7 linked regions of the Homo sapiens genome follow. The protein of the gene in region 3 purifies or fractionates together with the protein of the main gene of each other region. This does not show direct contact. Each region holds a gene or a part of one and is shown on either strand. Other genes may lie near its edges. The genes, in order: RALY, ZNF777, LARP4B, MKRN2, ADPRS, STAU2 and HEBP2.

What was found.
Region 1: the proteins of LARP4B (region 3) and RALY purify together in Homo sapiens (affinity purification with mass spectrometry; one large-scale study listed by BioGRID and IntAct). This does not show direct contact.
Region 2: the proteins of LARP4B (region 3) and ZNF777 purify together in Homo sapiens (affinity purification with mass spectrometry; one large-scale study listed by BioGRID and IntAct). This does not show direct contact.
Region 4: the proteins of LARP4B (region 3) and MKRN2 purify together in Homo sapiens (affinity purification with mass spectrometry; one large-scale study listed by BioGRID and IntAct). This does not show direct contact.
Region 5: the proteins of LARP4B (region 3) and ADPRS purify together in Homo sapiens (co-immunoprecipitation; one large-scale study listed by IntAct). This does not show direct contact.
Region 6: the proteins of LARP4B (region 3) and STAU2 purify together in Homo sapiens (affinity purification with mass spectrometry; one large-scale study listed by BioGRID and IntAct). This does not show direct contact.
Region 7: the proteins of LARP4B (region 3) and HEBP2 purify together in Homo sapiens (co-immunoprecipitation; one large-scale study listed by IntAct). This does not show direct contact.

The regions. Positions count from the first base shown.
Region 1 is NC_000020.11:33,992,496-33,997,317, forward strand, and holds the start of RALY (RNA-binding protein Raly), read left to right. Parts: upstream 1-1,415; 5' UTR 1,416-1,636; intron 1,637-1,709; exon of another isoform or gene 1,710-1,872; intron 1,873-4,822. UniProt on the Homo sapiens protein: RNA-binding protein that acts as a transcriptional cofactor for cholesterol biosynthetic genes in the liver. Binds the lipid-responsive non-coding RNA LeXis and is required for LeXis-mediated effect on cholesterogenesis.
Region 2 is NC_000007.14:149,454,300-149,458,588, reverse strand, and holds part of ZNF777 (zinc finger protein 777), read left to right. Parts: intron 1-2,551; coding exon of another isoform or gene 2,552-2,566; coding exon 2,567-3,412; intron 3,413-4,289. UniProt on the Homo sapiens protein: May be involved in transcriptional repression. Inhibits cell proliferation through CDKN1A/p21 induction by down-regulation of NIBAN1/FAM129A at low cell density.
Region 3 is NC_000010.11:823,037-827,325, reverse strand, and holds part of LARP4B (la-related protein 4B), read left to right. Parts: intron 1-1,455; coding exon 1,456-1,562; intron 1,563-2,009; coding exon 2,010-2,261; intron 2,262-4,289. UniProt on the Homo sapiens protein: Stimulates mRNA translation.
Region 4 is NC_000003.12:12,562,967-12,567,255, reverse strand, and holds part of MKRN2 (E3 ubiquitin-protein ligase makorin-2), read right to left. Parts: intron 1-4,289. UniProt on the Homo sapiens protein: E3 ubiquitin ligase catalyzing the covalent attachment of ubiquitin moieties onto substrate proteins.
Region 5 is NC_000001.11:36,091,418-36,094,747, forward strand, and holds the end of ADPRS (ADP-ribosylhydrolase ARH3), read left to right. Parts: intron 1-200; coding exon 201-408; intron 409-492; coding exon 493-677; intron 678-1,004; coding exon 1,005-1,105; intron 1,106-1,679; coding exon 1,680-1,969; 3' UTR 1,970-2,515; downstream 2,516-3,330. UniProt on the Homo sapiens protein: ADP-ribosylhydrolase that preferentially hydrolyzes the scissile alpha-O-linkage attached to the anomeric C1'' position of ADP-ribose and acts on different substrates, such as proteins ADP-ribosylated on serine and threonine, free poly(ADP-ribose) and O-acetyl-ADP-D-ribose.
Region 6 is NC_000008.11:73,550,731-73,555,019, forward strand, and holds part of STAU2 (double-stranded RNA-binding protein Staufen homolog 2), read right to left. Parts: intron 1,590-4,289; coding exon 1,282-1,589; coding exon of another isoform or gene 1,276-1,281; exon of another isoform or gene 1-1,275. UniProt on the Homo sapiens protein: RNA-binding protein required for the microtubule-dependent transport of neuronal RNA from the cell body to the dendrite.
Region 7 is NC_000006.12:138,417,441-138,421,729, reverse strand, and holds part of HEBP2 (heme-binding protein 2), read right to left. Parts: 3' UTR 1-4,289. UniProt on the Homo sapiens protein: Can promote mitochondrial permeability transition and facilitate necrotic cell death under different types of stress conditions.

The sequences.
Region 1 (4,822 bases), on a different chromosome or scaffold from region 3:
AAACTAGAGAACATCTTGAGACAAGGTGTTCAGGGAAGAGTTCTTTTGAGAAGGTGATATTAAAGCGAGTTTGGGGAAGAACGTCCCAGGCCTTGCGCTCAGGGTCGTCAACTCTTTGATTTCTCTTCCTTTTGAAGCAGGGCAGGGAGGTCATCAAACAACAGAAGGACAATTATAACTGCTGGTATGGCAAAGCCAGGACTCTGAATTCAAACTCTGCTCCATTCTCAGGAATCCCGTCTGTTAAGCAGGTTCTGGGGAAGCGATGTGAGTCATGAAATCACAGGTCGGAGGAGGCATCGAGAATATGGTCAGTTCTCAACTTTCAGGGAAATCCATAGCTGAGGAATGAAGGACAACGGGCTTCTCGTGCTCTCACTAGGAAGACTGGTTCACCGGAGGCTGGAACACTGAAAGTGAGAAATCCCGACAGGAGAAATGTGTAGGAGAGAGGACTAGCACCTGGATCAAGTTATAAAACATCTCCTGCATCTTTTTCGGAGATCACCCTTAGCGCGGCCTCTCCGCCCAGTCCCAGATTAGGCAGCGAAGAGCGACCCTCACCTTGTCTAGGTGGCACGTTCCTTAAAAGCGAAAGGACCAGGAGTTTCTTCCTGCCTCGTCTCTTCCGGATCCCTCCTGCACCGCCCACAGCCTGCAGATTTGAGCGCCATCTCCAGGCCCCGCCCACCTCAAGCACCACCCCTCAGTCCTTCCTTGGGGCACGCCTCCTTCCGGCACCCGCCCAGAGTAGCCACCCCCGGGGCCCCTCCTCCCCTCCCTGCTTCCGGGCCCGCCTCCTTCAGGCCCGCTTCCATCTTCCTCCCACTCTAAGCTTCTCTTCAGCCCCGCCTCCCTCCACCCGTGGCTCCGCCCTCTGGGCGATTCTCCATTTAGCCCCGCCCACAGCATCTCCTTTCAAGCGCTGTCCTGGTTCCCGGCTCTCCATCTCCTGCACGGCCTTCCCCACTGGTCCGGCGACCCTCTTCCCAGGGCCTCATCACCATCTTAGCTCCGCCCCTACTTCGGCTCCAAACCTGTGCAAGCTGCCCTCTTCCCGCCCCAGCCCCGCCTCCCCAAGCCGCGTCTCAGTCCCTCCTCCCTTTCAGGCCCCACCCTGGCCCCGCCTTCCTCCCGTCCCCGCCGAAGCTCTGGACCTTTCCAAAGCCAGGCTGAGAGGGTGGGGAGAGCCCATGCGCCTGGGAAGCCGGGCTGTTTCTGGGCGGGGCTGCAGACTCCTCGTGCTCGTGTCACCGTGTCCTTCCCAGGAGACAGAGAAGGAGGAGAGCCCGGAACCAGGGCCGGAGCGGCGGGCGGAGCCGAGCTGCGGGGAGCCGCTCCGGGTGCCCCCACCCCCGCGCGCCTCAGTGGTGCCGGCCGAGGGCAGGGCTCGCGGTTGCGGGGCTCGCGCCGCTGTCAGTGCGGCGGGGCGCGCGAGCGGCGCCAGCTCGGGGCAGCGGAACCCAGAGAAGCTGAGGGGGCGGTAGCGGCGGCGACGGCGACGACGACGACTCCCGCGCGTGTGCCCAGCCTCTTCCCGCCGCAGCCGCCCTTTTCCTCCCTCCCTTACGTCCCCGAGTGCGGCAGTACCGCCTCCTTCCCAGCCGCGCGGCTTCCTCCAGACCTCTCGGCGCGGGTGAGTGGGGACTGCGGGCGTCTCCTTAGGGGTGCGGGGAGGGTGTGTGCTTTGTGCCTTTCCGTTCACTCACTTCTTCCGGCAGGCCGCTGCCTATTTTTAGAAACTTATTTCTGCCCTTCGGGGAGTCCCGGGAGCCCGAGTAACTCTAGGCCCCCTCCGCCGCTCCTTTCTCCCACTCGGACCCGCCGCCCCGGGTCCCCGGCCCCAGCCCTCCGCGCCCGGTCCTGCTCCCGGCGTTCCCTGTCTGCTCTCTCCGCGGGCCAAGTCTGGGCCAGTAGTTGGCTGGGTGGGCCCGCGCCCGCTCGGAAGTTGGAGTCTTTTGTGCTCGTGCCCCGCCCCGCCCGGCGAGGGGCGGAGGGAGGGGAACGGAGGCTGCTCCGGGGAGGCCGCAGGCGGGCCCGGCCGCGGCTGCTTCCGGCTCTCCTAACCCGGACTGGGTCTACGGGCTCCCGGAGGCGCGCAGAGCTTGTCCTGCCTCGGCTCCCGCCTCTTCTGGGCTCTTTGCACGCCTTGGGCTCGGAGAGAAACAACAACGGGCCCTCGAACTGGGGCCGTATCCGCGTTTCACTCAGCCTCCTTGGCGGCCGAGTCTTAGTTTGCCTCTCGGTGACATGGGGGGAAAGAAGGAAACTCGCTTTGCGGGGTGTTCGTGGATTCAGGGAGGGAACTAATATGTGAAAGAAGTGTTTAACACCGACAGGGAACATTTAATGAGACTTCACCCAGGAACTTCCCAAGCCTTATTTCATTTAATGTTCACAACGGCCTTCTGGTTTATCCTCATTTACAAAAGCAGAAATTAAGGCGCAGAGGGGTCAAGTAATTTTCTCCAAGTCACAGTAGCCACAGAAGTGCAAAGGAGTGGTGCCAGTACCTATTATTTATTAATATTTCCTGGTGTGAGCATGTATCATCTCTTAGTGCAGAGGGTATTTTTACCTAGCCTTGGGTCACACCATTTAATTAGGGGCATAACTCTGGGTTTTCCCTGACTTCTGGGCCGTTGTCCACTATACTGTGGATGAAATCCCATTCTGGGGTTACCATAGTTCTAAAGGGAAAGGTTTGGATGAATTCCTTGCTAGTGTTGCGGCAGTTAGAAGTTGATGGATGCAGACTCCAGGTCTCAGACACAACTCAAATTCCCTGGGGTTTTGGCTCAAGGAAGCTTTGAGACTGTAAACGGTGGGATCCACCCTTTAGTTTGTGTGTGGTGTGTTCCTCCTCCCAGACCTTGCAGGTTCTCTGTGTTTAGATTTATCGATCCTAGTTTGATGGGGGTTAGGGGGAGTAGCTCAAGTCATCTGCCTTCAAACAAATATTACTCCTATTTTCAGATAAGGCCCAGAGTGGTTAAAGTGAACTAAAATTAACTTTGGCAAATGTTCCAGTTTTTCAATGTGATCCGGTTGGAGGGAGTGTCTAAAAATCAGGCAAGGGAGTTTCTGGGCCAGGTCTTGAGGAGTCTCTTGATGTTCACATTAGTTCTTTGGAGTCTGGTACGTCTGTGGTGCCTGGCCAGGATTCTGGATTTACGAGTCCTATGTGGGAGCTGAAAGGGGTCTTACCATCTGGTCCAACTTTTTCATATCTGCCTTTCCCCGCTTCCCTGTTAACTGAACCTTGGAAAGGGGAAGTAAGTTGTCTGAATTCAGACTGCCTTAGTGTCAGAGTGAGAACTAAAATTTCCAGTCTTCTTCCTCCTAATCCAGTAATATTTTTATTTCTCCCATACCTTGCCACTTCTTAAAAGGGCACGAAACCACTTATTCAGGTCTTAAGGTCAGGAATCCTGAGTAATTGGAAATCCCAAGGAAGTTTTATAGTCCCCACCCCTTTCTGTGCCTTATGGTTAGTATTAAGAGGAGGCCAGGTTTAAGCACAGGTGTACTAGTTCTCGTAAGTCACCACTTCGGTTTTATGTGTTTATGGCTTATATACTCTTCCATAACCATTATCTGATTTAATTTCTAATCCATTTCTGTGAGGTAGTTTGCAGAGCTTGGTTTATGTCTCTTTTTTTACTGTGAGGGAATGGAGACACAGCATAGCACTTGCCTTAGATGACAGAATGAGTAAGTAGTGAGGACAAGACACCTCTCTGGAGCAGAGGATTTGATTTGACATCATAAACTGAGCCACTCATTGTGGCTCTCTGAGCCTCAGTTTCCTTATCTGTAAACTCATAGGGTTGTTGTGGGGATTGTTAAGAAAATGGCTATGAAAGTGCTTTATAGTGGTAGTAATAATAGCTAAATTTATTAAGTACTTAACGTGTACCACCAGTCAATGGACTGAGGACTTTATGGACTATATTACTAATTCTTAGAGCAACCTATGAATTAAGTACTATTATTATCCCTGTTTTATAGAAGAAACAGGCTTAGAGAGGTTACATTACCTGCCTCAGGGTCATGTAACTGGTAAGTGGCCATGGCAGTATTCAGACTGCAGACAGTATAACCTTAAAGCTGGCATGCTTTTTTTAAAAAAAAAATTGTGGTAAAATATATATAACATAAAATTTACCATTTAACCGTTTCAAAGTGTACATTTATGTGACATTAAATACATTCGCATGGTTATGCAACCATCATCACTGTCCATTATCTTCCCCAACTGAAATTCTGTACCCATTAAACTAACTCCCCCTTCCCTCCTCCCTCCAGCCCCTGAAAACTATCGTTCTACTTTCTGTGAATTTGACTACTCTAGGAACCTCATGTAAGTGGAATCATGCAATATTTGTCCTTTTGTGCCTGCAAAGCTGGCACACTTAGTGTCTTCTTTAGTCTCAGAGTGCATTGTAAATGCAAAATTATTAGTCCTCACCTGCAGCAGAGATGTGGCATGCAGCTCCAGGGCAGGAACCCAGGCCTCTCTGAGTAAGACCTACTTTTCTCCCCCTTAGGTTGATGTTCTGTATCACTGAAGCCTGTTTTGAATCTCTGCTGGCCCCCCAGTATCTGCAGAAGAGACCTTATACCCTGTTTTTTTTGGAGACGGAGTCTCACTCCGTCGCCCAGGCTGGATTGCGGTGGCACGATCTTGGCTCCCTGCAACCTCAACCTCCTGGGTTCAAGGGATCTCTTGCCTCAGCCTCCCGAGTAGCTGGGACTACAGGCATGCACCATCACGCCTGGGTAATTTTTGTATTTTTAGTACAGATAGGGTTTCACCACG
Region 2 (4,289 bases), on a different chromosome or scaffold from region 3:
AAAGATGCCTTGGTCTGCTGGCTCTGTTTACTATACTGGAGGGTTTTGTTTTGTTTTGTTTTGTTTTGTTTTGTTTTGTTTTGTTTCATTGTTTCAGTTAAACCTCTGCATTACTCAGAGAGACTAACTTGCTCCCCAGGGATTTTTTCCTCTTCTTCTTTCTAGTGCTAGGCAGATACCCTAATCTCCCTCTAAGGCAAGGGCTGTAATGTGCCTATTGTGTTGCGTTAGGCAGTCACTTTCCCTGAGAGCCAGGCGCCTAGCCTCCAGGGCCCCCAGCGCTTCCTTCACAGGGAATGAAGAGTTCAGAGGTGGCTTAGCTGTTGATGAGCCTGCAGGTTTAGGGGTCTGTGAGCTCCTTGAAGATGTCTGCAAAATTCTGTGTATGTGCCCTTTTGTCTTTTTTGAGGACAAGAACCCAAAACTTTCATTAGGTTTTCAAAGAGGTCCCTGACCCCAACTTAAATGATAATATCTCTAAAGGCAAGGCCTTCCTCCCCACCTCTCCCAACCCTATCAAACCTGCCACAGGTCTTTGTGTATAAATAATATCCAGGCCTCGGGATTTTAGAGGTAAAAAGGATTCAGAGCACACACCTGCCTGGCCAGCTGCCTCAGTTGACAGTTAAGGCCTCAAGGTAGCCTGCAGGCTGTGGAACCAGACCACTGGGTGACCTGGGGCAAGTTGCTTAGTCTCTCCTGTCCCCAGTGTCTTCCTGTACTAAGTATGGATAGTAACTCTAGTAGTACCTGTTTCATAGATTTTGTGAGGATTAAATGAGATAATCCTTTAAAATGCTTAACACAGCTCATGGCACATAATAAATGCTGGATAATTGTTAGCCATTCTCAGCTGATTAGCGCTCATGTCTGGTTCGCGGCAGAGGCTATTAGACGATACTATCTCAAAAACCTTTTGTGAATAGGATCTTGAATATTCAATCCGTGGCTTAAAAGTGTGATGCTGTCACAGTTAAGTCACCTATAAATGAACCAATAAAAGAAAAAAGCTGTAGAAGATATGGAATTGCTTTAGATAAGTCTCTGATAGGTGACTAAAGGAACGTCATTGTTTATCCTAATAATTTTTTTGTAACTCAACAATTTACTCTTCAGCCGGCATTTATCAAACACATACTATATGTCAGACTGAACACTGGGGCTATGCCAATTTTCAACGGAAGAAAATTGAAATTTTAATTAAAGACCACTTGGATATAGAGCATAGTGACTGAGCAGATTGACTGAAGGAAGATGATGAGGGAGTGGACAGAAATTGTTACAGGAGAAATTGTGTTAGGTTCCAATAAAGATACTGATGATCTAGGTAAATACATAACTAGTTACTCACAGAAGATCGTGGCTTCGCCTCCCCAGTGATTCAGGAATTCTCTCGATGTGAGTATGGCAGGGTGAGGAACAAGGAGAGCGTGGGTCATTGAGATCCCAGAAGGACTCCAAGTCTTTATGTTGGTCTAGTCCCCCCAAATCTGGATACAAGTCACCAGTCCAGCTGACTTCTGCTCTACTTCCCCATCCTTCCAGGCCTCACTACTTCCTCATTCCCCATGTCGGAAACCCCAGGGTGGAACCCAGACCACCTGAGCACACCTGCTGCAATGGACTGCTGCCCACTCCTAGGAGTGGTTGAATTGCCTGCCTTCACCTGCCTCGATGTCTCGCTCTGCTTATAGCAGAAGCCAGGCCAGAATACCCAGAAGCCCGTTCAGCCTCTACAGCAGGGGCCGGGCACATAGAAGATGTTTCCAAGTCAAACATACATATACCATACTGACTCATTGATATGAGTCTGCAATGCAACTGTTATCAAAGAGTAAGAGTCTGGGAAACTTCAGATAATGTCATGTCCTCACTTTTGGACCAAGCGAAGGAAGGAACCCAGGGCACCACAAAGGCCTAATGCTGGTAGAAGTGGTGGTGGCTGGATGCCAAGTCCACCTTCCAGTTAAGAACATTAACAGTTCTGGCCCCTGCTGGTGAGCCCCCCACCCCTGCTGGGAGATGTGGGATAGTAAGTGCTTGGCTTTTACAAAATTCTGCTCTTTTGTTTCTCAAAGTTTTATGTTCAGTGCTTCAACAACTCAGGTAGTGTGTGTGTCAGATATTATTATCCTCGTTTTATGGATGAGGACACAGGACACTAAGAACAGAGAGGTCAAACGACCGATCCAGAGTGACACAGGTGGCAATAGGTGTAGACAGGGCCAAAAGCTCTAACAGGAGTCCAGCACCCTTCCGCTCTCCCACACTGCTGTTCGTAAGGTACCCGTGCAATGTATGTTGTGAAAAAGGAGATGGCTCTGTGAGAAACAAAAGGTAGCATAATCATCTTTCATTTGCGGTTCATAATAGTGGTATAATTGATGTCTAAATTGGTGCTGTGGTCTCTAGAAGAGATTCACATATGAGGGGCACATATTATTGCTACCAAACGGAAGCACTTTTTATGTGTATACTTGTCTTTGGGTTTTATTTTGCTAGCTGGAGACTGTGGCCTTTAATCCTCTTTTCCTTTCTTCCATGAACACAGGTTCAGCAGCTGGACATGGAGAACCAACGCTCATCACCTCTGTCGTTCCCCAGTGTTCCACAAGAAGAAACCTTACGTCAGGCCCCTGCTGGACTCCCCCGAGAAACTCTGTTCCAATCCCGCGTTCTTCCTCCCAAAGAAATTCCTTCTTTGTCTCCCACCATTCCCCGTCAAGGCTCCCTGCCCCAAACTTCCAGTGCTCCCAAGCAAGAGACTTCTGGCCGGATGCCACATGTGCTCCAGAAGGGACCCTCACTCCTGTGTTCTGCCGCTTCTGAGCAAGAGACTTCTCTCCAGGGCCCCCTGGCTTCCCAGGAAGGGACCCAGTATCCACCCCCAGCTGCTGCTGAACAAGAAGTCTCCCTTCTCTCCCACTCCCCCCACCACCAGGAAGCCCCCGTTCACTCCCCTGAAGCTCCTGAGAAAGACCCCCTGACCCTTTCCCCAACAGTTCCCGAGACTGACATGGACCCGCTGCTCCAGAGCCCGGTTTCCCAAAAGGACACCCCTTTCCAGATCTCTTCTGCAGTCCAGAAGGAACAGCCGCTCCCCACGGCAGAGATCACCCGCTTGGCTGTGTGGGCTGCCGTCCAAGCAGTGGAGAGGAAGCTGGAGGCCCAGGCCATGAGGCTACTGACCCTGGAAGGCAGGACGGGGACAAATGAAAAGAAGATAGCCGACTGCGAGAAGACAGCCGTGGAGTTCGCGAACCATCTGGAGAGCAAGTGGGTCGTGTTGGGGACCCTGCTGCAGGAGTATGGGCTGCTGCAGAGGCGGCTGGAGAACATGGAGAACCTGCTGAAAAACAGAAATTTCTGGATCCTGCGGCTGCCCCCCGGCAGCAATGGAGAAGTTCCCAAGGTAAGCACATCCCAACTGGGGCTTCCCAAGGAAGTGATCTGAATTGGAGTGTGGTTTAGGAATGTAGTGTAATATGAAAGAAAGGGGTGGTTGATAAAGGAAAAAATACAGTGATCCCAGTTGCTAGGACATGCCAAAATCAAATTATTTCTCCTGTTGATGAGAGTATAGGCTAGTACAGAAATGCCCCTGGGATCGGGGATTGTCAGTTTGGAAGGGTGTTCAGCAGAGCTGTCCATGGTGTGAGAGACTACGAAGGCAAAGCGAAGGCCGATGAGAGCCGTGGAGAGGCTTTACCATCAGTCACTGAGGGTGCATTAGCTTCACAATTGCAGCAGAGGAAGGAGCTTGGGTTAAACATCACAAGGATCTGTCCCACTCCACATTTTTATGAGTTCACTTATAAGCCATGTTAGTGCCAGGAAAACTGATTTCAAGATGTTTCCTTTCAAAAGCTAGAGAAGTTAGGTTTCCATATTATTTTCCAGAAGGTTCTGAAAGAGCTTGAGTGTGGACTGGCTTGCTTTCTCTTCTTCAGTGCTGCTGCCCCCTTTCACAGCCATATGTAGGGAGAAAACAGACTCTGTTCTCTAGCCCGGTATGTCTCAAATGTTACTGTGCACATGGATCTCCCCGGGATCTTACTGAATGCAGAAGCTATTTAGTAGGTCTAAGGTGGGGTCTGAGCAAGTTACCTGGTAGCACCATTGCTGCTGGTCCACAGACCATGCTTTAGAGCTGCAAGAATTATATCCTGAAGGGGAGGAAAAGGATCCGACAAGACAGGCCCCTCACTCTTTGGGGCCAGGACAGTGGCCAGACTTCTAGAAAAGTCCTAGGTGAAGGCCCAGAGCCAGGAGTTTGGGCCTTGGGATTG
Region 3 (4,289 bases):
CCAGGTCTGCATTCATGGCTCTTCAAGTGTGATGTATTTTCTTTTTCTTTGAGACAGAGTCTCTCTCTGTCGCCCAGGCTGGAGTGCAGTGGCCGGATCTTGGCTCACTGCAAGCTCCGCCTCCCGGGTTCACGCCATTCTCCTGCCTCAGCCTCTTGAGTAGCTGGGACTACAGGCGCCCGCCACTACGCCCGGATAATTTTTTTGTATTTTTAGTAGAGACGGGGTTTCACCATGTTAGCCAGGATGGTCTTGATCTCCTGACCTTTTGATCCGCCCCCCCTTGGCCTCCCAAAGTGCTGGGGTTATAGGCATGAGCCACTGCGCCCGGCCATGTGTGATGTATTTTAAAAAGTCCGATTCTTACAGAGTGAAGAGTTTCTCAAGTAGCAAATTGAAGATTCTAACTTCCCTTTTGTATGATTTTATTTTAGTCCTAAGCTATAATATTCTTTTTCTGTTATATCTTCCAGTTAGCTCTAATTAAGGAGAATTACTTGCTTTTTTCCTTTCCTTTCTCTCTTCCTCCAAACAAGGAGGGCTCTATGCGTATCTCTGTCACTTTAGTGACATTGAGGGTGTGGACTGGAAGGCCCTCAGGAACTAAGTGCCCTGTGTCAGGAGCATAAGGAGCGAGATATCAGTGATGCAGAACGTATTGGAAACCATGGGTCCAGAAGCCAGAGAATTAGAATGAATGGTCTTGAGTTTTGTTTGTTTGTTTGTTTTTAAAGGAACTGTTTTAACAATAAGTTTTATCTTATTTTTGTATGTGTCTAGATTTTAAAAATAGTTGGCCGATACTTAAAATTCTATGCTCAATATTTTTAACTACTTAAGATCTTTTAGGGGTTCTGTGACCCTTTCTAATTTCTTCTGAATCTTATGTTAGTATATTTGCATGCCATACTTACCTTGTGACTTGGGGAATAATGATGATCTGAAAATACCCTGATCTGCAGAGCAGGACTTGTGTCGGGGTAAAGGTAAAGGCCCTGTCAGGCTGTGGTTGGATGAAGCCGAGTGAGCAGCAGTGGGTGTGCAGGTGCTCCTAAGATTGAGAATGTTGATGAGTTGTATTAAAGCCATCAGGAATCAAGAACTGTTGACTTCCTGCCAGTGATGGAGGTCGTATCAGACTGACATGCTAAAGGTTACAACACTTGTTGGAGCCCATGCGCTCTTGACCACGTCTTTCCTCTCAGTGCCTGCTTCCGCATGTGTCAGTTCTCCTCGCTGGATTGTTGTAAGGATTGGCTGAAAGGATGCACAAAAGCTCCAGCCTACTTCTAAACAGCACCCATTGGTGATAAAATTGTAAAATACATGTCTCAGCATGGGTCATGACTCTGACAACATCAAGAAATGCCCTCAGTTTCCACAGATTTGTTGGTATTAATGAAATTGAAGTCTGTTTTATGGTTTATTTACTTGTCTGTTTTCAAATGAATCTAGGTAACTCCATTTCCAAATACTGGATTTATAAATGGGTTTACGTCTCCAGCGTTCAAGCCTGCGGCGTCTCCTCTGACTTCTCTCAGACAGTATCCTCCTCGAAGCAGGCAAGTTCCGGGGCGGTCTTAGCAGTTTTGGTCTTTACGCTACTGCCCTTCCGGAGTTGGGATGAGAGAGCTTTGATCACTAGTCCTGCTCCTCGCAGACAGAGCCACCTGAAGCACACAGCTGCATTCTGTAAAGACTAAGCACTACAATCTGGCATGGGTGCCCGCCTCAGATTCTCTGAGAGGAGGCTTTGGGGCAACTTGTACACATCAGGTGTGCCTGATTTTAATTTGGGCCTGGACTGAAAAACAGCTAAGCAGAATTGTGGCACATTGTTAATAGATTTGCATTATCCTATATGTTAGGAGTTAACCATTCCAAATCCTATTTTTATACTTTATTAAACAGAGAGCAGATTTCAGCTTAGCTATTCCATGTCAGTATGCATGTTATGTAATGCCTTGATCATTTTATAACTCAACACATAAAACCATTTTTATTTACAGGAATCCTAGTAAATCTCATCTGCGGCATGCGATTCCTAGTGCAGAGAGGGGACCTGGGTTATTAGAAAGTCCTTCAATATTTAACTTCACTGCAGATCGATTAATTAATGGTGTCCGGAGTCCACAAACAAGGCAAGCAGGTCAAACTAGAACACGGATTCAAAACCCTTCAGCATATGCCAAGAGAGAGGCTGGGCCTGGGCGTGTGGAGCCAGGCAGTCTCGAATCCTCTCCTGGTTTAGGGAGGGGAAGGTGAGTTGTTGAGCAGTTACTGTGTAACATCATAAACTAATATTTTAAAAATTATTTAATTTAGATATGTTTTGTAATTGTCTTTAAATATGTCACAGAAAATCTAACTGAAGGCTATAAACATAAGGGTTTTATATAATTGCTAAGACTTAAATGGCTTCATCTTTTTTGGAATATGAAATGGTTCAGTGAGAACTGTAGTTGTTTTAGATCATTATTTGTAGAAACACTGGAGCTCAATAGCCATAGACTCCATCCCATGTGCCTGCAGTCTCCTCTTGGCAGCACCCCTGGCTCACCAGGCCCCTCTGCAAGGGCGGTGTCCAGGCTCTGCCCCATGGCTGCTGGCCTGGCGCCCTCCAGCTGGGTGTGCACCAGGCACTGCAGGTGGAGCCTGGAGCGGGTAACCAGGCAGATCAGCATTGCAGTCTCATCTCATTGGAGGGTTGAGACTAGCCAGGACGGGTCTTAGCTGTGCTTCCTGCCCACCATTTTTGGTTTTGTTTAACATTTTTTTGGCATCAATCCTGTAGTAGGTTTTTGTTTGTTTGTTTGTTTGTTTGTTTGTTTTTAAGACAGGGTCTCACTCCGTTGCCCAGGCTGGGGTACGTTGGCATGATCATGGCTCACTACAGCCTTGAACTTCTGGGTTCAAGCAATCCTATTGCCTCAGCATGCTGAGAAGCTAGGACTTCAAATGCACACCACCATGCCTGGCTAGTTTTTAAATATTTTGTAGAGACAGGATCTCGCTGTGTTGCCCAGGCTGGTCTTGAACTCCTGGCCTAGAGCCATCCTCCTGCCTCAGCCTTCCATAGTGGTGGGATTACAGGCATGAGCCACCGCACCTGCCCATTGTTGATAAGGCCAGTTGATCTTCTCAGTCCTTGCCTTGGTAAGGACCGTCAGGATTTTCCTCTCATAAGTGACAAACAAGTGACTCAAATACCTGAGCTTTTTCAGGGTGTTCTATATACAATGTGTACAGCACCATCCCTGACGTGCAAGCTCCTCTTCCTGCCTGCCACAGTGCACACCCTCTGTGCAGTGAGAATTCAACATGAAGAGGCATCAGAAGCATCTCATTCCTGCCCATAATGATTCAATGAGCACATAGGAGTTCCTGCAGGGATTGTGCAGTGGCATTGGAAGGCACCATGGTCTGGGAGAGCTGGCACTGGCCTGTGTCTCACAGGAAACATGGCATCAGGTTGGCTCAACAGGCCTTGGAGATGCAAAGCCAAAAGGGGCCCACCGTGTCATGGAGAGTCAGTGACTTCAGGGAGCAGTTGCTAGCCCTGGGTCTCAGTTTGGGGTTCTTAAGACCCAGACGCTTGGAGGGAGGAGGGTTGCAGAGCTGGGGCTCAGACTTGGGACAGAGCCCTACTCATCAAGGCCATGTGGCTCCCTCTGAGGGGCATCAATTGTGGGCACGGTGTGGAAGGAGGCAGACTAGATGGACAAGGCCCCCCGGCCTCAGCCTCCTGTGCTCTTCAGTGTGCCTTGTTCATACGAGCGTCACAAGGAGTTTCCTGGCAAATGAAAGTGGGGCTTGTTGAATTCCAGCTACCTCACAAAATGTATACAGGTGGCTTTGAAGCTGAGAGTCCAAAGCTTGCTGACGAATGTGGTCTACCCAGGATACCCTTCAACAATACTTGAACTTCCAAATGCAACTGTAACAAGTTTATGCTTTTGCCTGACAGATGCAGATCTTGCACCAATGGAGACCCTCTCTCTCCCCACCAAGGGAGGACAACTGTCCTCCCACCTGAGACCTGAGCACTGCGGCAGGGAGTGGTTTAGGAAGCGCACACCAGCATGGGCACGGTGGGCAGGGAGTGGTTTAGGAAGCACGCACCAGTGGTTTAGGGAGTGGTTTAGGAAGTGGTGGGCAGGGAAAGCGCATGCAACTCCTGCAGCCTGTTTCTGCGATGGGTTCTGAAGCCAGAGCTGACCTTCGTAACCTCCTCCTTCCCTCTGTCTTGAGAAAGAGCTTGTGCTGTTTTGCAGGGAGGTGTGCCAGGC
Region 4 (4,289 bases), on a different chromosome or scaffold from region 3:
AGAAGTATTTTAGACACACCCTAATAAGGCTTAAAAAAAAAAAACACAAGCTGATAGCAAGTATATAACTTACTGTCAGCCAAAACAAACTTTAAAGGAAGACAATACAATCCAAATGCTCAGAAACTCACAATGCTTGGCATCCAATCATAAATTACTAGATATGCCAAAAAGCAGAAAATAATGTGACCTATAACCAGGAGAAAAATAAAGAACAGGAATTACAGAGATGATGGAATCAGCAAAATAAGACCTTAAGAACAGCTATTATACATATGCTCAATATGCTGAAAGATTTAAAGAAAAACATAAACATAATGTGGAGAGAAATGGATGATTTAAATAAGACCAAATACTAGGTGTGGTGGCTCACGCCTATAATCCCAGCGCTTTGGGAGACTGAGGTGGGTGGATGACCAGAGGTCAGGAGTTCGAAACCAGCCTGGTCAACATGGTGAAACACCATCTCTATTAAAAATACAAAAATTAGCCAGGTGTGGTGGCAGGTGCCTGTAATCCCAGCTACTTGGGAGGCTGAGGCAGGAGAATCACCTGAACCCTGGAGGCGGAGGTTGCAGTGAGCCAAGATCGCGCCATTGCACTCCAGCCTGGGCAATAAGAGCGAAACTCCACCTCAAAACAAAACAAAACAAAAAACAAATGAAACTTCTAGAAGTGAAAAATACAATGTCTGAAATGAGAATTACATTAGATGAGTTTAGTAGATGGGATACTACAAAGGAAAATATCAGAATACTTGAAGACACAGAATAGAAACCATCTGAGAGAGAGAGAGAGAGAAACAAACTTGCTTCTGACTACCAAGGAGCATGGATCTTGGCTTCTCACTGTAAAAAAACAAAACAAAACAAAACAAACCCAACTGAAAAATGAAACAAAATATGTGAAACAACTGCTTTCAGACAATAGAAAAAAGGACTGGTCCTTAAGAGAAGGGAAACACAGGAAGTAAGCCCCACATTTAGTCTGACTTCCTACCTGGAGGCATATTCTAGGTCTTGGTACTGGGAGTAGAACCTCAGGCAAATCACAGAGATTGAGTTTAGGGAGGCTGCAGGGATTCTTTAAAGATCCATAAATAGTCTGGGCTCAGAGGCTCATGCCCGTAATCCCACCACTTCAGGAGGCCAAGGTGTGAGGACTGCTTGAACCCAGGAGTTTGAGGTCAGCCTGGGCAACATGGCAAAACCCAATCTGTATAAAAAATACAAAAATCAGCCGTGCATGATGGCTACTTGGGGGCCTGAGGTGGGAGGACTGCTTGAGCCCAGAAGGAGAGAGCCTGCAGTGAGCTCTGTTTGCACCACTGTACTCCAGCCTGGGTGACAAAGCAAGACCCTGTCTCAAAACAAACAAAAAAACAAACAAAAAACCCTGTAAATAGAACCACACATAGGCCGCATGCAGTGGCTCATGCCTGTAATCCCAGCACTTTGGGAGGCCAAGGTGAGTGGATTGCTTGAGCTCAGGAGTTTGAGATGAGACTGGGCAACATGGTGAAACCTCGTCTCTACCAAAAAATATACAAAAAATTAGCCAGGCACGGTAGCGTGCACCTGTGCTCCCAGCTACTTGGGAAGATGAGGTAGGAGGATCGATTGAGCCCAGGAGGCAGTGGTTGCAATAAGCCAAGATCATGCTGCTGCACTCTAGCCTGGGTGACAGAGTGAGACCCTGTCTCCCAAAAAAAAAAAAAAAAAAAAAAAAAAAGGTAAGTTGGGGAAAGAATCTTTTCAACAAATGATGCTGGACCCAAAATCGACTTGGAAAAAACTTAAATATGTACCTGCTGATATGACCCAAAATGAAGTATAAAACAACCTATGACGTATTCTAGCCAGAAACAATTAATTTGAATCCACAAAACTCCAGATCTAACATCCAGTTCATAGAAAATACAGGAGACTGGGGACAACCTATGAAAGACATCTCGAGAAAACAACCAAATAAATACAAAAGAGGCTGTACGTGGGACCTAGGCCTACTGTCTTTATAAGTGCCATGTAACTAAAGGAGGCTGAGTTTGGAAGACAGTTTGACAGTTTCTTAAAAAATGTAAACATAAATCTACCATATGACCCAACAATTCTACGCCTAGGTATGTACCCAAGAAAATGAAAATCTATGTCCACACAAATACTTGTACATGAATGTCCAAAGCAGCACTATGCATAACAGCCAAAAAGTGGAAACAATCCAAATGTCCATCAACTGATGAACAGACAGAGAAAATGTGATTTATCCATACAATGGGCTCTTATCCAGCCATAAAAAGGAAAGAAGTACTGGCACACACTACAACATGGGTGAACCTTGAAAACATTACGCAGAGTGAAAGAAGCTGGACACAAAAGACCACATGTTGCATGATTCCATTTATATGCAATGTCAGAAAAGGCAAATCTACAGAGACAAAAAGTAGATTAAGTGGTTGCCTAGGGTTGGGAGGAGAGAAGTGAGGGTGACTGTTAATGGGCACAAGGGATCTTTTGGGGGTGATAGAAATGTCCTAAAATTTAACTGTGGTGATGGTTGTACAACTTTGTAAATTCATTAAAAAGTTTTGCACTGTACACTTCAAACAGGTAAATTTTATGGTATATAAGTTATACCTCAGAAAAAGCTGTTAAAAAAGAGAAAAAAGGGAAGGGACAATGCTAGGTTAGCAGACAGAACACAAGGGACATAACCAGATGCAATACTTACCTCTGGACTAGAATCTGGTTTCAACAAACCAGATACAAAAGACATTTTTGAAACCAGATATTTTGAAAGATATTTTGAAATAAATGTGAGTATGGACTAGGTATAAAATGAAAATTTATTAATATGGAAAGTTAAACACAATTAACTGAGAAGAGTAGATTATAAAACAGCTAATGGTGCAGCTTCTATAGAAAAACAGTACGGAAGTTCCTTAAAAAATTAAAAATATATTTACCATATGATCCGGCAATTCCACTTCTGGGTATAGACACAAAATAATTCAGGCCAGGCCCAGTGGCTCACGCCTGTAATCCCAGAACTGTGGGAGGCCGAGGTGGGTGGATCACCTGAGGTCAGGAATTTGAGACCAGCCGGATCAACATGGTGAAACCCCATCTCTACTAAAAATACAAAAATTAGCCGGGCGTGGTGGTGGGCGCCTGTAATCCCAGCTACTTTGGGGGCCGAGGCAGGAGAATCACTTGAACCTGGGAGGGAGAGGTTGCAGTGAGCCAAGATCACGCCACTGCACTCCAGCCTGGGCAACAGAGTGAATCTGTTTCAAAAAAAATAGAAGACTTCAAAGTAGGGACTCAAACAAACATTTGCACACCCGTGTTCATACCAGCATTATTCACAATAGCCAAAAGGTGGAAGCAACTCAAGCGTGCGCTAATGGACGAATGCATAAACAAGATGTGGTCTATCCATACAATCAAGCTTAAAAAGAAAGGTGATTCTGGCCGGGTGTGGTGGCTCACACCCGTAATCCCAGCACTTTGGGAGGCCGAGGCAGGCGGATCATGAGGTCAGGAGTTCAAGACCAGCCTGGCCAACATGGTGAAACCCCGTCTCTACTAAAAATACAAAAAGTAGCCGGGCATGGTGGCAGGTGCCTGTAATCCCAGCTACTCGGGAAGCTGAGGCATGAGAATCGCTTGAACTCAGGAGGCGGAGGCTGCAGTGAGCCGAGATCGTGCCACTGCACTCCAGCCTGGCGACAGAGTGAGACTCCGTCTCAGGAAAAAAAAAAAAAAAAAAAAAAGAACTAGACAACAGGAGGGAATGGTATGCAAGGAATGCCAGGGAGGCCCGAGAGGCCCAGACTGCTGGTGTCTCCAGAGAAAGGGTACTAGTGAACATGCTGCACATCCGCCCCAATCAGAAACCTCTGACTTCTCCACCTGTTTCTCTCCCCAAAAGCAGAGGAAGTGCTGACCAGACCTACCTGACAGTTTATTTTTTTCCCAGGGAAATTATAAAAGGATATTCTAGTATATAAGTCAGTCTCTCATGCGTTTGGCTAGTATGAGCCACCTCTATGTACACCAACAGAATCAAATTTCTGAGCCTACAAAATGAGAACTGGACCTCATGACTTAAGTGACTATACAATGGTGCCATCCTACAGCCTTTGCTAGGTAGTCAGCTAGGCTTTCCCCAGGAAACACCCTCTTGTGGCCTACCATTAGATCAGCAGTCCCCAATCTTTTTGGAGCCAGGGACCAGTTTTATGGAAGACAATTTTTCCACGGAATGGGGGGATGGGGGATGGTTTCAGG
Region 5 (3,330 bases), on a different chromosome or scaffold from region 3:
TGCATGTCCACGCCCCCAACCCTCCACAGAAGCCTGTGTCAGGCTGGCACAGCTTCCCAAGCTAAAACAGCAGCACTGCTGGTGCAGGCTCCTTAGGCCCCCGAGGCTTTCTCTTTTTCCAAACTAGCCTCGATTTCTTCTCTCCCAACCCTTAGAGGCATCTTGTAAATCTGAATTCTGTCTCCCCTTCTGTTCCCTAGATTTGCTCAGGAGTACAAGAAAGACCCTGACAGGGGCTATGGTGCTGGAGTAGTCACTGTCTTCAAGAAGCTCCTGAACCCCAAATGTCGCGATGTCTTTGAGCCTGCCCGGGCCCAGTTTAACGGGAAAGGCTCCTATGGCAATGGAGGTGCCATGCGGGTGGCTGGCATCTCCCTGGCCTATAGCAGTGTCCAGGATGTGCAGAAGGTATTCAGGGCGGGCTGGCTTCTGGGCTGTCCCCTTCCTCTTCTGCAGCAGGGCTTCTGTGACAGCAGGTCTCCTCCTCCCTAGTTTGCCCGGCTCTCGGCCCAGCTGACACACGCCTCCTCCCTGGGTTACAATGGCGCCATCCTGCAGGCCCTGGCTGTGCACCTGGCCTTGCAGGGCGAGTCTTCCAGCGAGCACTTTCTCAAGCAACTCCTGGGCCACATGGAGGATCTGGAGGGTGATGCCCAGTCCGTCTTGGATGCCAGGGAGTGAGTATGGGGCTGGAGGTGTGTGGTGTGGGTATGTGGGTGATCCAGGGGGCCTCTGGCATTGCCGCAAACTGTAAACCTTCCTCAATTGCAGACCCTAGGGAGGCATGGGCAGAAGCCCCTTTATCTTGTCTATGTTTCAAGGCTCTCAGGGTCCCAGAGAACGAAACGACCTGCTCACCCCAGCCCTCTCCCACCTCTTGTCGGCACCTGTGCCTGGCTGCCAGCCTGACCACATCCCTGCTCGTTCTCACATGCAGCCCTCTCCCCTGCCCGCGCCACCACCCTGCTAGCTCTGACCTCCCTGAAATCTCCCCTAAACCACAGGTTGGGCATGGAGGAGCGTCCATACTCCAGCCGCCTGAAGAAGATTGGAGAGCTTCTAGACCAGGCATCGGTGACCAGGGAGGAAGTGGTGTCTGAGCTAGGTGAGTGGGTCTGCCTGGGATTGTCTCTCCCTCTGTCGTCCTTCAGGGTCGGTCTTGGGCTCAGGGGAGCATGGAGTCATGCCTGCCGTCGCATTGTACCCTGGGCTGCTGTGACACGGAGTCAATGGCAGGGTTGAGCTCAGCGCTTCTTGCTCTGAAGCTACAGCACCCTCAGCCTTGTGGACCAGTGTCCCCAGAAATGGCAGCTGGCCACTAGTCGTAAAAATGTTGATAATGGATTTTATTTGTCTAGCATCTATACTGGGCGTTGTGCAGAATGCTTCACAGACACGATCTCGCTTCATCCTCACAACAGCCCTGTCAGAGAGTTGCTAACGTTACTCCCTGTCTGCTTAAGGAGTTGAATCTGGGAGCAGGAAGCTTAGCGGTCCCCTAGGTAACTCTCCCAGTCACGCAGCCAGTGTGTGGTGGAGCCAGGATTTGAGCCCAGGTGGTCTAACTGTAGAGCCTGAGATCTTAGTCACAGCCTGCTTGAAGCCGAGAGTGCTGACTTGTGTCAAATGGTAGGAGGCCTGGGGAAGCATGCAGCCCCTCTAACCTGGCTTCCCCACAGGGAATGGCATTGCTGCCTTTGAGTCGGTACCCACCGCCATCTACTGCTTCCTACGCTGCATGGAGCCAGACCCTGAGATCCCTTCTGCCTTCAATAGCCTCCAAAGGACTCTCATTTATTCCATCTCACTTGGTGGGGACACAGACACCATTGCCACCATGGCTGGGGCCATTGCTGGTGCCTACTATGGGATGGATCAGGTGCCAGAGAGCTGGCAGCAAAGCTGTGAAGGCTACGAGGAGACAGACATCCTGGCCCAAAGCCTGCACCGTGTCTTCCAGAAGAGTTGATGAGGGCTACAGCTGTTGGGGCTCTGCCAGGTCCCCTGGGACCAACTACAGCTCCAATCAGAAACCCTGCGCTTCCTTGAGTGTGGCTTCCCACTTTTCCTGCATTGTGGAGCTGACTGAGTACACCGGTGAGGCTGGGGTCTCTGCAGGGGAGGTCACTGGAACAGCGAGCAAGGGACTGGTGCCTCGCTGGTGCTGGGTCTCTGGTTTGCTGCAGAGCCGTAGGACACTCCTGGCTCCTCAGTAGGACAGACAGACGCAGGCGGGTTTATTTTGGAGGGGTACTTGTGGCATTTTCCTGTATTGTCTTGGACATGGGATGTGGGGAGGTGGAAATGATGAGCAGTAGCATCATTTCTCCCTGTTGGGTTTTAGCCAGTTTGCCAGCAAGCGCATCCTAGCAGGGTCCCCGAGCAGCAGGTTGTGTGGATGAAGGGACAGGCACTTGCATCCAGCTGATCTAGGTCACACCTGGCTCTTGGCTGCCATGTGGCTTATTAACAGCTTCCAGTGGAAGTCGCAATAAACAGTTTTTGGTAAATCTCACCACTGTTTCTTGTTTCTCCTGCCCTGAATGGATTCTCCCCTGCCAGCCTGATCTCTGAAGACTAGTGCCTTTGTCTGTGCTGCACTGTCATAGAAGCTGGGGCCCCAAGGCCATGAGCTGCTGTGTTGCCAGGCACTCCAGCTGGCTGCGTGTTCAGCCAGGAAGGGCACAGCAGGCATGGTCTGGTGGCTTTTCCTGTTAGAGATCACTCAAAGTGGCCCAGGCTGCTGGGCCGAGTGCTTTGCCAGAGGCAGCGGGTAGGAACAAGCCAGATTTTTCTGTTCTCAGAGCCTGACTTCCCCAAACAGGAGCTAGGCCCAGCTGGGCCAGGAACAGGAACCCTGTAGAAGGATCCAGAGGGCCCTGCTATCATCAGACTACCAACCTTTGGGTGGGGAGGGCACCATCACGGGGCCCCGGGTGGACTGAGTGCCGTGTGCCTCCTCCTGTATCTTGGGACCAATCAAAAGCCTTTCCCTGCAAGGAAGTTTTACACAGCATGTTTTTAGAGATGGGGTCTCACTCTATTGCACAGGCGATCCTCCCACATGGGTTCCCAAGTATCTGAGACTAGCATCCATTCTGAAGAAGGGAAAATTGAAAGGGGGAAGATGCCTCCCCTCAAACTCCAGGGACATTCTCTGAGCATCCAGCCTCAGTGGCTAGCCGAGCATGTGCAGTCTGCAGCTGCCCTGCGGTTTCAGCACTCTCGGGCAGATCTGTTTTAGTGAAGATAGGGTTCTGGCTAGGCTGAGGACTCTTCAAAACACAGATTGCTTCAGGTCTGCCACCCAGACCCCCAGCGCCAGGGACA
Region 6 (4,289 bases), on a different chromosome or scaffold from region 3:
AAAATTTCAGATGACAGAGCCGATAACTGGTAACAGCTTCTTGAAGTTCATATTAAGAGTCCAATTAGAAACACTAACAACTACCTGGCAATAGTTTGAAAGAATCAGAAGGGTTCGGTGAAGTGAAAAAAAAATCCGAACATGCAAAATACCCCCCAAAACACATGACCTTCTTTTTCATTTTATAATCTAAACTTGTAAAATATTTATAAATACATGATCATTCTACACAATACAGATCTTCTAGAGCATTTCTAAAGGATATTACAGTTTTTGGTCTTAAGGAATAAAGACTAAGATGGAAAAGGAGATGAAAACAGTGAAATCTGAGGAAGCAATACACTCTCTACACACAAGCAAACTAGTTCATCCAGTCAAGTTAGCGGTTACAGTTCAGTACATGATTTTCAAGGCAACTAAGAAATCAAGACACAGATATTTCCCCTTCCTAGAGTTTACAATTCTTTCAAAAGCTCCAATGTATCCATAAAGGAGTGCTGATTTTTGTGGGGTTTTTTCCCAGAAGGAAACAAAGAATAAATAGGGGAAAAAAAGTTTCCATCCCTAAATTCACATACACAACAAGTTAAGTTAAACTATAAGCTAGTTTTAGACTACCCAGTGAAACAGAATTGTTGGTACTATCTGAGGCAGGTGCTACCCTCCCTAGTCAGTTCAAAACATGATCCAGTAAAACAAATACACATTGTTATGCCTCAAACAACTATAAAGCATTTCATTATTCTTCAAATATCATGTTTAATTAACTCCTAAGGTAATAGACTTCTAGAATGTTGTATCTTAATGGTGTACCTGAATCAATACTAGCAATAGAATGCAAAATTCAAAATTGCTATAAAGGTAAAATCATCATAAAAAGAAACTCAATCCTTATGTAAAAAAAGGGAGAACTGAGTGTGAAATACTAACACCAAATGTCTGAAGGCAGAATTTTTGTTTGTGGAAGACAGAGCGAAGAGATAGATGCACCTAATCAAGACCAAATAGAAGACAGTGAAGAATATGAAAAATGCTTAAAAAAGAAGAAGGAAAATGGAGAAGAGACAGGCAGCAAAAGAATTACTAGATAGATCAAAAATAAGAGAAAATGAGGCATGTGCATATGGCTTTTTTGTCTGTCCTTTGTGTTCCTAAATAACTTAAAACGTAAGTGGCATGTAGGCCATACTAGCAGGCAAGAATGAGCCTTGTGATGTATACAGATGAAGAATCTGAGGCTAATGAATTGTTTTGTTTTTTGTTTTTGCTTTTAATTCATACCTGAAAGCCTTGAATCCTTGCTAAATATTCCAGTTGTTTTGAAGGTTGTACTGGAGAACAAGGGGGAGTAGGAGAACTTCCTTTTAAACCTATGGCTTCAGCTGTAGAAGATGTTCCATTCATAAGGAGTTCCCTGGCAATTGTAGCTGAACTATTCGATGTGGGAGATATACTGAAGAAAGAGCTTGAAGGTTGGTTCATATCTTTGGGTGACAAATAGCCTAGAGTAGTGCCAGAGATTACTTTGTGGCGGCTGGCTTCCATCTCTTGATAAACATCAGGAGACAAATGAAGAATTCCTTTTGGAGCTATAAATAAAATGAAGAACACTGTTATTACACTTAAAATAACCGAAATAGAAACATAGCATTATTAACTCAATGGCTTTACTTGGTGTAGTAACAAAGAAATGAGAAACACTGCCAAACAAGTATCTTTGTCATACTGTAGAGGCAGTTGCAGCTTCTATTGAAAGGTGAATAATGTCTATTTCAATTTTCCTAAAATTAGAGGTTTAAAAACATCCAAAAAAAGTGGTTTCAATGGGACTTATGTGTAGTAGTGAAGCTATAAAGGGACAAGGGAAACTGAATGTGTGGAAGTATAATGGGGCAGAAAATCAGGAATGTGCAGTGTCTTCACCCTGCAATTTAATATTTTATATCTCATAAAAGAGGCATGAAACCCCAACACATACAGCAATTGAGGCACATCAGGTAAAATAAAGGCTGAATCAGTCCAAATTTCTTTGGAGGTACAAACGCATGTATTCAACAGCCTAGTGATCCTCTCACCTCCACAAGGATGTCCCACAGACAACTCTAACTCACGAACACATAAAAAAGCAAATGGGTATCATCTCAAAACTAGCACTGTCTCTAACTTGCTTTGCTCATACTACCATGTGGCTGCTCATGACCCAACCTAGACTCCTGGCAACCATCTCTGATTTACTCATAAGCAAGTAGTTATCGTGTTGCTCAAACATCTCAAGAATATGACCATTGTAGGGATTATCTAGTGCATTAATTCAAGCCAGGCCATGGACAGGTTCTGAAATCAAGAGGAGTGGGGGCTATGTCATTAGTTGATGGAGCTTAAACCATATTAGAGAAGCACTTTCCTTTGACTATCATTTGTCTCAGAGAAGTTTCAAACCACATTTCAAACTGCTTATTCTTATCTTTTGATCAGGTATCAATAACTCTCAAATGATATTATCTTTTAAAATTATTGGTAAGTCACCACTCATAAAGAATGTGCTCTGAGAGACACAACTTAATTTCCTGTTCTTGCCCCTTCCTCTCCTGATGCTAACCTTCTGATTCAAGCTTTCAATGTTTCTCTGCTGCTAGTATTCTCAGTGTCCATTTCCCAAAATGTGTTCTATAACATGGTCCCCAAATAAAATGGTTCCATAAATAAAAACTGAAAATAATGCAAATTACATAATACAAATGCCTTTTGTGAAATTAAAAATACACATTAGCATAGTGAAGAATCAGAAAACTCAAAGAACAAAAATCTATTCGACTTGGTTTAACTCAGGATTCCTGAGTTTACTTTTTGTCCAAGCCTTTAACATAGCATGAATAAAACAGCTAACACTTTGGGAAATGCTGGAGGCTAGCCCAACTCTCCTCTGACTCAGTCATTTCCAATGACCTGTCTTTGAGATTGATGACCTTTTCTTCTGCTTGACATTGTCTGCTATTGAATCCCTCTGGTAACTTTTTCAGTTTATGGTATTTTTTAGCTCCATGCTTTCTGCTTGCTACTTTTTAAAGTTTTCTTTTTGTTGAAATTCTCACTTTTTTTCATGCATTGTTCACCAGACCTCAGTGGGAATGTTTGTAAGGATTACTTTGAATTCTCTGTCAGGTAAATCACATATCTCCATTTCATTAGGGTCAGTTTCTGGAGCTTTATCTCATTCCTTTATTTAGGAAATGTTTTCCTGTTTCTTCATTTTTCCTTGATTCTCTGTGTTTGTGTCTGCACAAACTGGCCTCATACTGGAGAAGATCCTAACCAATCAGCCTGGACAGAGATTCTGGAGGCCTCTCAAACTTTTATGCTAGTCTAATCCACTTTCTTTGTTCTTGGCAGTCCCCAGGCATCAGTCCCTTGCTTGTCTCAGTCCCATCAGAGCTCTGAGACAAGCAAGACTGAAGCCAATTCTTCAGGCAACTCCCAGATAAGTTGGGTCATTGGATACATGGTGCTCCTCTTTGCCTCTCCAGGAAAAAGCTGAAAGCTGAAGCTTTTCAACAGTTAGCTTTGTGCTGGGCTGAGCAGGGGATGGTTACAGTGACCACCACCACCAGCCACCTCTTTCTTCATTGGCCCCGGGGTTGCTAAAATATGCCATGTCCTGTCAGCACTCTGAGACTGGCCAGACAGAAGCCAGTCCTCTGGGTAGCCCCAGAAAAGCTAAGGCATTGGATGCGTGGTATACATCTTTCCCCTTCTAGGCAGAAAGAAGCTGGGAGCTGGGGGTGGAGGGTGGTTGTCCTGATTGTATGGCCCTGCACTGTGAGGAGGGATTATGGCATGAGGGTATCTTAAATTTCCCTGCCAATTAAGATCTGGCTGGTTTCATGCTCACCCGGCATACAGGAGCCTCTTAACTGGTTTCTGGATTTCTCACAAAGAAAAATTGCCTATAAATTATTGTTGAATTGCTGTGTTCCAGGGCTTCCTATTCTACCATCTTGCCAAGGCTAGAACATTCTCTTACTTAAAGGTCTTTCACCAGTTTATCAGTTACACTATAGAACCCAAACTCCTTAGGATAACCTAGGAAGCCCTTAATAATCTGGCTCCTACTTATCGCTCTATCTTCATCTACGAAATATTTCATGAAGATCCCATGCTCCAGTTACACAGATATATCCAATACTCCAGGCTGTTTGATCCCAACACATCTTTATTTCTATTGTTCGGTTACACACATGCACATACTCTCTTAGTTAAGCTCCAACTGCTATTGTGCTAGTTAAGCTTCA
Region 7 (4,289 bases), on a different chromosome or scaffold from region 3:
TGGATGAAATACAGGGAGAGAAGAATCGAGACTCATCCCTGAAACATGGCACCTTCCATGTGGCTACTCTACTCCTTGGGGCCCGCTTCTGTTATGGACCGCATCTTAAAAAGCTCCACAGGGGTAGATCTGATGGCTCTCATACCCTCATACTTTAAGTTCCAGATAATCACAGAAGCCCCAGCCCTAAATTATTTCCACTTTATTTTTACTATCAGTGGGGAGAGAAACAAATTACTGCTTGGTCTGTCAGTTGGAAACAACCTCAATGCGATCTGCTTTCTGCCATCCTACTATTTCTGAAGAATCTTGATTGAACTCTTGCTTTTCCTGTGGGGGTGACTGTATATTCCTTAGGAGAATCACAGTGAAAAGGAGACGTTTCTGTGTCTCCGTCTTTCTCCCCACCCACCACTGGCACCCTGCTCTGTGGTGGCATCTTAGGAGGAGAGGGGAAAGAGTGGCTTTCTTGGTTCTGCCGTAGTAGGGGTTCAGCCTGCATGCGATGCTGATTCCATCATCAAATGAGCACAGCAGCATAATTTGCTTTGGCAGATGTGAGGATGTTGTTGGGGGAATGGAGGGTCATTTGAATGAAACATGGACCTGATTGTTGCGCCACTTTCCTTAATAAGCCACTCGGTAACTGTAATACAGTTTCTCTCAGTTGCCTGCTCTGACCTACCTTCCACAGCGGCCAGCCTTTATTCACAGAACAAGAGGTAGAGCAATCTGTAGTCATTTGTTCAGCAATGGGGGAAAAAAAGTCCTAATAAATGCTTCTCATGTGCTAGGTAAAGACAAGGAGGCCCAAAGATAGAAAACGTGGTTGAGCTATCAGTGAGGGGCATGATCCTACTGCCAGTTTAGATTCTTCAAGAAGTAGACAGTTAGAATACCAAAGGATTTATTATTGGAGTAAGCACCTTTGAAAGGAAAAGAGGAAGCAGGACGAGGCAGGGAGAGCAGGCGAGCTGCCATCCCAGGGGAACTCTGGGAAAAAGGTCACTCATTGGAGGAGTCCTGTGTTGGACTGAAACAGTTAGGTCCTTGTACCATGGCCTTGCTTGGTCTTTGGCAAGAGGGCCCCCTCAGAAAAGCATGCTCTCAATTTCCATAATTTAGTGAAATCATTGGCCACCAACCCCTCCTGTCTTGAGAATAGCGTGACCTCAGCTTGAAAGCTAAGGTGGATCCTGGTGAAGTAGCAGCTGGTGGCTGCCAGCTACCCACACTCCTTGCAGCTGGATGGCATATCTTGTCTTGAAGGGGGATCTAAGTGGCACCGCTCTATGCCTGCCATGGTCCACCCCTTGCCTATGTGGATCCATTTTCCCAAAAACACGCAGAGAGTGACTGTTTCAGGGCGCCAATGGACCTCTCTTCCTGAGGATAAATGTTGAAAGAGGAGTTTGGTAGGACCAACTATAGCACCTTCCTGCAAATGGTTTTGGAACCACAACTGGTCCTCATTACTCCCTGCTTCATTCTAAATTCCCCTCACCCACAACTGTCATCTTTGCTGGTCTTGGTGGCTTTTTTGATAGTATAAACCAAGCTCTCATTCCTGAGGGTCCTGAGCTCCTGGGAGCCAAACCCTTCTCAGACCAGGGTTGCTGCACTAGTCCATTCAGTTACAACTGGGCAAGGAGTACAGAGGGTGCCTCCAGTGGGTCCGCTAAGTTCCACACACATTGCTCTCGCCACTATCCTCTGACAGCAGGCTTGCCTCCTCCTGCAGTTCAGGGTCAATTACCCTTGACTAGATGGTGACTTCTTGCCTACTGGTCCCTGAACACAGAGTCCAAAGTGCCCACATAGTAGCAGCAGACTGTAGTTCAATGGGATTCTTGCAATATTGCCTAGAGAAGGTATACAGTCTCTGAGAACTAGGACTTCTGATGCTGTAGAACCTGGAGTTGTGGGCATGGGAAGTACTAAGTCCCTCAGTGGTTCGTTGGGTGCGATGGTAAGTGGGGTCACTCCTGCCTCCACTCCTTGGTTCTGAAATCTATATATTCCTGTTGTAGACACAGCATCATACAGGCTTTCTGATTCAATAAGTATACTGTGTGCAGGAGACGGTGGCACATCTTGGCAGGGTATTGTCTCCCACCTGGCACTAAAGCAGGCCATGCCAACATTCCATCAGTCTAGCAGCTTCTAGGTGGCGCAGTATGTGATAGGAGCAGTGGATCCTATGACCGCTGGCGAACTCTCCCTGATTGGGTGTTAACATGTATAGATCACGTATTCAGCAAATCTACGCTGACAGTTCAGATGTTTTGTAAGTCCTTAGATTGTGTTCAGGACCCTGTAGGCCCGAAAGGAACCACATACCTAGAATAGGAAGTCTGTCCTTGTGTGAATAAACTGCTGGTGCTTCTAGGAAAGAATGAGCCTACCATAGTGAATTTGCTATCAAGCGACCAGTTGGTCTTCACAGCCTCATCAGGGTCTCAGCATTGGTATTTGTTGCAGGCAGGTTGGATAGTCACAGTGAGCAGTGTCTAAGTTGGCCTTGGTAAGTGGGAGCCCATGTTGGTGGGTTCCATCCATAGCCTCCATCTTTGCCACCACTGCCACTTTATGTGTGCATTTTACCAGCACTGAGGTGGGCACTGGCAAAAGCTAATAGAACAGGCTAAGTCATTTCATCTACTTGGTTGTTTAGTGCCTCTTCTCTGGTGGGTGCTATCTAGTGGGCATTAACATGTGATACAGTTTTTCAACTTCTGTGTTCACTCCATATGCCCATCCACATGCCTCTACCCCAGACCTCCTAATCCATGTTTTTTTCCTCCCAAACTCCTGATCAGCTGGCAGGCCATTTTCTGCCACTTCCATAAATATTTTACCTGTCCTCCCTCACAAGGTGAATGATCCAGTGTACCTCAAAAAATTCTGCCCAGTTTTTGCAGGAAGATTGCAATTTTTTTCCCGTTTTTCAATGTCACCTTTGAGTGAAGGTCCATTTTCAGCTTGCAACTACAGAAGATAACTAATCAATAAACCAAGCCCAAGCATTCCTCTTCCTTCAGTGGATCATACAGGTCCTCCAACAACCACAGGGAGGGGGGATGTAGGTGCCACTGTGCAGACATGGCGGTTGGAGTAATTGCTCTTGCAGTTTGCTTATGTCCTCTGGTCTGGCTTGGAACTGCTCCTGTACATATCATTTCCATCTTCCAATGGGCTGCTGCCGATCCTACTAGCTTATGACTTAGTGCTTCCCACAGGACCTAGTTAAGATGAGCAGTTCTGGATACAGCATCACTGGGTCTCAAAGTTCCGTGTCTACCAGGGCCCAGTAGCACAGCAGAGGCTGTTTTTCAAAAAGCATATGATCCTCTCCTGTGGTTAGAACCACCTTCCTTCAGGGCCCCAGGGACCTGCACTGTGATTCTCTCATTGGGCCTTGTCATCTATTCCACACTGCATCTTCTTTCCCCCTACCTCCAATACATAAGATCTGCCACATCACATAATTCAAGCTGCTAATTTCTTCATATCTGTCACTTCTGGTTCTACTTCTAATGATTACCCTTTTTTCCTAATTATGGGCCATAATTTATATTTCTCTGTTTCCAGTAATTTTTTACTGAATGTTGGTAATTATGAGTGTTATGTTGTTTGTTGATGGATTTTGTTATATTCCTATAAATGGTATTGGGTTTTATTCTGATTCACAGTTAAGTTTCTTGAAATTAGTTTGATCCTTCCAAGGCTTGTCTTTAAGCTTTGTTAGGGGAAGTCCAAAGAAGCCTTTGGTCTAGGGACAATTTGACCTCAGTACTAAGGCAACACCTGTTGGAGGACTCCACCTGATGACCCATGCATTATGAGTTATTTCTACTCTGGCTAGTGGAAACACAAACTTTTCCCAGCCCCATAGATGATCTGTAAATTATTTGCTCTACTAATTTCCAGTTACTCATTTCTTGGCTTAAGTAGTTTCTTCTAACACCTTCACTCAACCAAGGACTCCAGGGGACCCACTGCAGATCTACAGCACTCTCTGTCTGTGTGCTGCTGCCTCCTCTCCTCTCACTTACTCACCTTGGCCTCCGGTGACACTGATCTCCATCTCCTCAACACAGCAGGACCACTGGTCTCTGGCTTCCCTCTCCCTGCTTTGCTGCCTAGAAACTGCCTCCAGGCCATTCGCCTGAGCAATCACTGGACTCACCTCATTATTCCCCCTTCTCGCAGAGATCACAGTCCTGTACTATGAACTTTCAGTGTCTGAAAACCATTGTTTCATATATTTTGTCTGGGCTTTTAGTTGT